Linked DNA regions of Homo sapiens. The protein of the gene in region 2 purifies or fractionates together with the protein of the main gene of each other region. This does not show direct contact. Each region holds a gene or a part of one and is shown on either strand. Other genes may lie near its edges.

Evidence for each region.
Region 1: the proteins of FOXE3 (region 2) and C5orf22 purify together in Homo sapiens (affinity purification with mass spectrometry; one large-scale study listed by BioGRID and IntAct). This does not show direct contact.

The regions. Positions count from the first base shown.
Region 1 is NC_000005.10:31,545,761-31,549,572, reverse strand, and holds part of C5orf22 (UPF0489 protein C5orf22), read right to left. Parts: intron 1,084-3,812; coding exon of another isoform or gene 886-1,083; intron 1-885.
Region 2 is NC_000001.11:47,414,897-47,418,763, reverse strand, and holds FOXE3 (forkhead box protein E3), read right to left. Parts: upstream 2,480-3,867; 5' UTR 2,449-2,479; coding exon 1,489-2,448; 3' UTR 712-1,488; downstream 1-711. UniProt on the Homo sapiens protein: Transcription factor that controls lens epithelial cell growth through regulation of proliferation, apoptosis and cell cycle.

The DNA.
Region 1 (3,812 bases), on a different chromosome or scaffold from region 2:
AGTATCTTATAACGATCTTCTTAATTACCATTTTTAAAAAGTGTAAGTCTTGGAAGTGTTTATTCAGGGCAATTTGAATATATGCTCCCAGGGGAAAAAAAAAAAAGTTAAACAAAAAAGTTTAAGTCTTGGATTTGCTTAGGTTTCACCAAAATATTCTTTTGCTTTGCTCATTATATGGTTTGGCTGTATCTCCACCCAAATCTCACCTTGAATTGTAACTCCCACAATTTCCATGTGTCATGGGAGAAACCTGGTGGGAGGTGACTGTGGGGGTGGGTCTTTCCTGCACTGTTCTCATGATAGCGAATGAGTATCAGGAGATCTGACAGTTTTATTTATTTACTTTTTTTGAGACAGAGTTTCACTCTTTTTGCCCAGGCTGGAGTACAATGGCATGATCTTGGCTCACTGCAAACTCCACCTCCTGGGTTCAAGCGATTCTCTTGCCTCAGCCTCCCGAGTAGCTGGGATTACAGGGATGCGCCACCACGCCCGGCTAATTTTGTGTTTTTCATAGAGATGGGGTTTCTCCATGCTGGTCAGGCTGGTCTCGAACTCCCGATCTCAGGTGATCTGCTCGCTTCGGCCTCCCAAAATGCTGGGATTACAGATGTGAGCCACTATGCCCGGCTGGAGATCTGATGGTTTTAAAAACACAAGTCTCGCTGCACAAGCTCTCTCTTCTTGTCTGCTGCCATGTGAGATGTGCCTTTCACCTTCTGCCATGATTGTGAGGCCTCTCCAATCATGTGGAACACTAAGTCCATTAAATCTCTTTCTTTTGTAAATTGCCCAGTCTTGGGTATGTCTTTATCAGCAGCGTGAAAACAGACTAATACAGTAAATTGGTACCAGTAGAGTGGAGCACTGTTGAAAAGATACCTGAAAATGTGGAAGCAACTTTGGAACTGGCAGAGGTTGGAACAGTTTGGAGGGCTCAGAAGAAGGCAGGGAAATGTTGGACAGTTTGGAACTTCCTAGAGACTTGTTGAATGGCTTGGACCAAAATGCTGATAATGACATGGACAATGAAATCCAGGCTGAGGTGGTCTCAGATGGAGATGAAGAACTTGCTGGGAACTGGAACAAAGGTGACTCTTGTTATATTTTAGCAAAGAGACTGGTGGCATTTTGCCCCTGCCCTAGAGATGTGTGGAACTTTGAAGTTGAGAGATGATTTAGCATATCTGGTGGAAGAAACTGCCAAGCAGCAAAGCATTCAAGAGGTGACATGGGTGCTGTTAAAGGCATCCAGTTTTTTTTTTTTTTGAAATGGAGTCTCGCTCTGTCACCCAAGCTGGAGTGCAGTGGTACCATCTCGGCTCACTGCAGCCTTTGCCTCTCAGGTTCAAGCGATTCTCTGCCTTAACCTCCTGAGTAGCTAGGATTACAGGTGTGCACTGCCACACCCAGCTAAGTTTTGTATTTTTAGTAGAGACGGGGTTTCAACATGTTGGCCAGGTTGGTCTTGAACTCCTGGCCTCAAATGATCCGCCAGCCTTGGCCTCCCAAAGTGCTGGGATTATAGGCGTGAACCACTGTGCCTGGCCAAGGCATTCAGTTTTAAGAGAGAAACAGGGCATAAAAGTTTGGAAAATTTGCAGCCTGACAATGTTAAAGAAAAGAAAATTCCATTTTTTGAGGAGAAATTCAAGCTGGCTGCAGAAATTTGCATAAGTAACGAGGAGCCAAATGTTAATCCCCAAGACAATAGGGAAAATGTATCTGGGGCATGTCAGAGACCTTTGCGGTAGCCCCTCCCATCACAGGCCTGAAGATTTAGGAGGAAAAAATTGTTCCATGGGCAGGGCCCAGGGTCCCAGTGCTGTGTACAGCCTAGGGACTTGGTGTCCTGTGTCTCAGCCATTCCAGCCATGGCTAAAAGGGGCCAACATAGAGCTCGGGCTGTGGTTTCAGAGGATGGCCTTGGCAGCTTCCTTGTGGTGTTGATCAAGCCTGTGAGTGCACAGAAGTCAAGAATTGAGGTTTGGGAACCTCTGCCCAGATTTCAGAAGATGTATGGAAACACCTGGATGCCCAGGCAGAAGTTTGCTGCAGGGGCAGGCCCCTCATGGAGAACCCCTGCTAGGGCAGTGTGGAAGGGAAATGTGGGGTCGGATCCCCACTGAGAGTCCCTAGGGGCACTGCCTAGTGGAGCTGTGAGAAGAGGGCCACTGTCCGTCCTCCAGATCCCAGAATGGTAGATCCACTGACAGCTTGTACTGTGTGCCTGGAAAAGCTGCAGACACTCAACACCAGCTCATGAAAACAGCCAGGAGGGAGGTTGTATCCCGCAAAGCCACAGGGGCAGAACTGCCCAAGACAATGCGAACCCACCTCTTGCATCAGCGTGACCTGGATGTGAGACATGGAGTCAAAGACGATCGTTTTGGAGCTTTAAGATTTGACTGCCCTGATGGACTTCAGACTTGCACTGCCCCTTTGGGCCAATTCCTCCCATTTAGAACGGTTGTATTTACCCAATTCTTGTACATCCATTGTATCTAGGAAGTAACTAACTTGCTTTTGATTTTACAGGCTCATAGGTGGAAGGGACTTGCCTTGTCTCAGATGAGATGTTGGACTGTGGACTTTTGAGTTAATGCTGAAATAAGTTAAGACTTTGAGGGACTGTTGGGAAGGCAGGATTGGTTTTGAAATTCGAGAACAGGAGATTTGGGAGGGGCTAAGGATGGAATGATATGGTGTGGCTGTGTCCCCATCCAAATCTCATCTTGAATTGTAACCCCCACAATTCCCACATGTAGTGGGAGGAAGCCGATGGGAGGTGATTGAATTGTAGGGGTGGGTCTTTCCTGTGCTGTTCTCATGATAGTGAATGAGTCTCACGAGATCTCACAGTTTTAAAAACAAAAGTCTCCCTGCACAAGCTCTCTCTCTTGTCTGCCACCATGTGAGACCTGCCTTTCACCTTCCGCCATGACTATGAGGTCTCCCCAATCATATGGAACTGTAAGTCCATTAAATCTCTTTTGTAAATTGCCCAGTCTCAGGTATGTCTTTATCAGCAGTGTGAAAATAGACATCTCTTATTTTAAAGAGTACCAGCAAATTCTTATAAATTCAATCAATACTTAAATCAATACTTCAACTTTAGTCAAACACAGTGGTCTGACTGTATTCCATAAGTAAATAAAATATGCAAACCCAGCTTACTGAAGTAAGAGAAAGACCACACTAAGAGGAAGGAGACTTGGAAGTCTTAGCCCTGGCATCAAATCTGAGAAAAGTCACTTGAACATTTTAAGCTATAGCTTTCTCATCTCAAGTACCAGGTCAAATGGGAAAATATATGCTTCAAAGACTGCAAAATGATATACAAATAAATTATGACTAAAAGTATCTTTGGCCATAGCATTCAGATACCTGTTGACAAACAGCTAACACATTTAAAATGTGCTAGTCACAGCTCTCTCTTTTTTCTTTGTCTTGTGGTTTTTACAAACGGAAAAGTTTTTAAATAGGGAGGAAAAGAAGGAAGGCAGAAGGCAGTATAAATACTCATCAATAAAAAATGGACCATTTTAGAAATTGTGTACTTTTCTTTTGTCTGGTGAAGAGAGATCCGACCACAGACAAAATTACAAAAAACACACAGGACTTTTGCTTCATACATAAAATTGAGAAAAAAAAGTTTTTCCTGGAAGACTTTTCCAGGAAAACAGTATTCTGTTTCAACGTATGTATTTTTTTCACTCATTTCTTTTCTTAATAATTGTTTCAGACTTCACAGGAACACAAACAAAAACGAACCACTTTAACAAAAAGGAAATTCTTCTACCCAGAAA
Region 2 (3,867 bases):
GTCTCACTACGTTAGGCCAGGCTGATCCCAAACTCCTGGCCTCAACCGATCCTCCTGCCTTGGCCTCCCAAAATGCTGGGACTACAGGCATGAGCCAGCACGTCCTGCCAGATTCTGCATTTCTAACAAGCTCCCAGGTGATGTTGTAGGTCTGTGGACCACACTTTGAGTGCAAGGCTGTAGAGCACTTATCTTATTTCTCTGAGCGTTGATGGTTGGATTAATGACTCTTCCCACTGGCCCACAACCTCCATGAGGCAGGGATTTTGCCCATTCATTCAGTAATATTTCCCCAGTGTCTAGCACAGGCTCAGCACATTAACTAACTGGAGGAGTGAATCAACGGCCAGTGCTCCTTTATCCATGGGAGCTGGGAATAATCCCAGAGAGCAGACAACCTGCTGCTCAGATACATTCACACAAGTGTGTACACACACATGCCCAGCCCATCTCGTCTCTACCAGGCTGAGATGCAGGAGATGGCATTTGACTAGGCCTACTATGTGCACAGCTATGGCTGAATCACTTCCTTTTTAAAACAAAATTGTGTTAGCCACTAATCCTGCTGGAGAATCACTTCCTAATCCCATTTCATGAACTTCTGATTGATGTCTCACAAGGAGGTTCACCCCATGTGGCAACCCAAGATCTAGAATAAAGCTCACCCGTCTCCCCAGACCACTCCCCCAAGTCACCAGCCAGCACACCAAGTCCAGAAAAAAGTTTCTTTCTTTTTAATTAAACCAGCTTTAATTAAAAATAATAATAACCCAATAAGTCCTAAGTTTTCCAGGGGATGGGGCAGACCTAAAGGCCCACCAACTCCCCTTTCAGTCAGGAGCCCTGGTGCTGCCTGTCTGAAATCTCCAAGAAGTGTCCTCAGGGCGTGAAGAAGGCAGCCAGGTGTGTCTACGTGAAAGGGGGGCTCTCTCCCAGGAAGAAGCTGAGGGCAGACAGGTAAGTGGAGGTGGGGGGCAAACTTGTGGGAAAATGAAGGGACGCTAGCAAGTAAGTCATGAACCCAGGAGTCTGACCCAGGAGTGTCGGAAAAACATGAGAGAAGGTTGATGAAGTACAGTCGGTGGAGGAGGCGGCTTGGGATCACAGATCTGGCTTCCAAAGGCTTGGAACTCACCAGGAAACCTGGGGTATGGACTCACTGGAGGCGAGTCAGCTCCGGGGCAAGGGACCCACAGACAGCGCTGGGGTGGGGGGCGCCGCAAAGCTGGGGGCGCTCACAAGTGGAGGGAGAAGAAATGAGAGGCTGGCAGGTCAAAGGGGACGCTTCTGTCCAGTGGCGAGATGGTGGGAGCCTCCCCAGGGATGGGGGACGGAGAAGGATGTAGCAGGAGTTTGAGTCCAGGAGGCCACGACGAGAGGCGCAGGGTGTGCTCCAAGCCAGGGTGGGGGGTAGAGATGGGGCGCTCGAGGGCGGCGCCGCAGGTCCGGGGCACAGGTCGCACAGGTGCCTGCCCGCGCGGCGCAGGCTCACAGGTAGCGCTCCAGCCCCGACGCGAAGCCCGGCTGCCTCAGGTAGGCCTCCCCAGGGCTGAGCGGGCCGAGAGCGGCTGCCGGCCCGGCCAAGGCCAGGAGGGGCTCAGCGGGCAGCGGGCCGGGGCCGGGGCGCGTCGCGGGCAGTACCAGGCGGTCGGGGACCTGCGAGTAGAGTGGCGGGGAGGCGGCGGCAGCGCAGGGCGGGAAGGCTGCGGCTGCGGCGTCGGGCGCGGCGCAGCAGGGCGGCTCGGGGGCGCCCAGCCCCGCTAGCTCCGGCTGCAGGTTCACCAGGCTGTCGACGCTGAACAGACGCGCGGGCGGCGAGGGGCCCGGTCCGGCAGAAGGCGGCGGCACCAGCAGCGCGGGGCCGGGCGCGGGCGCGTAGGGCGCGTAGGGGAAGGGGAGCGGCGGCCCTGGCGCCGCGGCCGCGTGCGCGGGCAGCTCGGCGCGCTTGAAGCGCTTGCGGCGCCGCAGGAAGCTGCCGTTGTCGAACATGTCTGCGGCCGCGGGGTCCAGCGTCCAGTAGTTGCCCTTGCCCGGGTTGCCCGGCTCGCGGGGCACCTTGACGAAGCAGTCGTTGAGCGTGAGATTGTGGCGGATGCTGTTCTGCCACTTGCGCGGGCTGTCGCGGTAGAAGGCAAAGCGTTCGGTGATGAAGCGGTAGATGGCGGCCAGCGTGAGGCGGCGGCCCGGGGCGTGCGCCAGAGCCATGGCGATGAGCGCGATGTACGAGTAGGGCGGCTTCCCGCGCTGCAGGGGCCGCCGCCGCCGCCGCCCCGGGCCGGGCGCGGGCGTGGGGGCCGCCTCTCCGCGGCCAGCCGCCGCCTCCTCTGGCTCCCGCCCTGGCTCGGCTCCTGCGAGCGGCGACGGCGGCGGCCCCGACGGCGCGACCGCTGGCAGGGCAGGGAAGCCAGAGAACGCGGCGGGCGGATCCATGTCGCTGCGCCCCGCCATCGGCTGCGGCAGCCCCTGCCCGCGCGGCTCCGGGACCGCAGGGGCCGCCGACCCGCTTTATATGGACACGGCCCCCCCCCAACCACCGCCGGGGGAGAGGGCTCAGGCCTTGCCTGCTGGCCAGCGCCTCCCCTCTAATTTCCTCTCCCAGCCCCCTTACTCTGTTCACGGTACCCTCCTCCATTTCGCCCCTCCCTTTCTGCCTTTGGATCAGTTTTTCCCAGACCCAGACTCACCCCTTCCCCATCTCGGTTATATCAGCCCCTGGCCCCATCCCACTGTATTTGGTCAGTCCCCTTCCCTTTCCACCCCTCCTTCTACCCCCTCTCCTTTGGATCATTCCCAATCACAAATCCACCCATTCACTCTCCCAGCCCCCTCCCCATTTTGCTCCTCCCCATTTTGCTCCTCCCAGTAGTCGGTCCCCCCATCCTTCTCCTGGCCTTCCATCCCCAGCTGGAACAGAGATGAAGGCCGCCTTGCCAGCCCTCAGTATCCTGATGGGGAGGTGTCAGGCCCACTCACAGACATTAGGGAACCTGGGCCAAGGTAATGAAGCAGCGGGGCAGGGCAGAGCCAGGCCGGTTTTGTCTCTGGGAGAATGTTTGACTGCTCCAGATCAGGGTCACCATCTTGCCTCTCTGCCACCCCCCTCCCCCATACCCCTGTCATGCCCTCCCTCCAGGCCTTGAGAGCATTCTCTGAAAAAACAGAATTGTGGAAAGTGGTGCGGCCGCTTTAAATGAAGAGCCCCCAGGAAATCCACAACTTGGAGCTGCCTTTCTGGCTGCCTCCTCTCCACACCCCCCTGTTAAAGAAAACAGCTTTTCTTCACATACACACACACACACATACACCCACACACACAGTACAAAATGTAGGCTTCCACAGACTGGGGGTCTGAAAAAGCCGCCTTCTGACCCAGAAACACCACACTCACATCTCACTGGGGATGGGGGGTCTTTGGCAGTGTTTGTTAAAAACTCAGTCTGAGAAGTTCCACCCACAACTGGCATCCAGGGGGATGCAGCACCCAGCCTATTTTGGGAAACTTCTTCTCCCAAGAGACAGGAGACCCATCCCCAGCTCCAAGGGAACTACAGGGTGAAGGAGCCTTGTCTTAAAGTGGGTTGTCCTGGGGACAGGCAGATCAAGGGACTTGGACATGGAGCAGGGCTGGAAGGACAGTGAGCCCACTGAGGTGCCTGAGGTGCTGAGTTTAAGGGGAGCTCAGTCTCAGGGCCTTGCAAGTGCAGTCAGCACTTGAGAGCCAGGGCCTCCTTACATTTGGGGCATCTCACTTGCCCCATCCTAGTCCCCCAGCCATGCTATAGAGTGTCCCTAGGTATAGGTGACCAAAGCTAGTTACAGCAGGCCTGTAAACTCCAAACTCAAAATCCAGTTCAAAATCCAAACTCA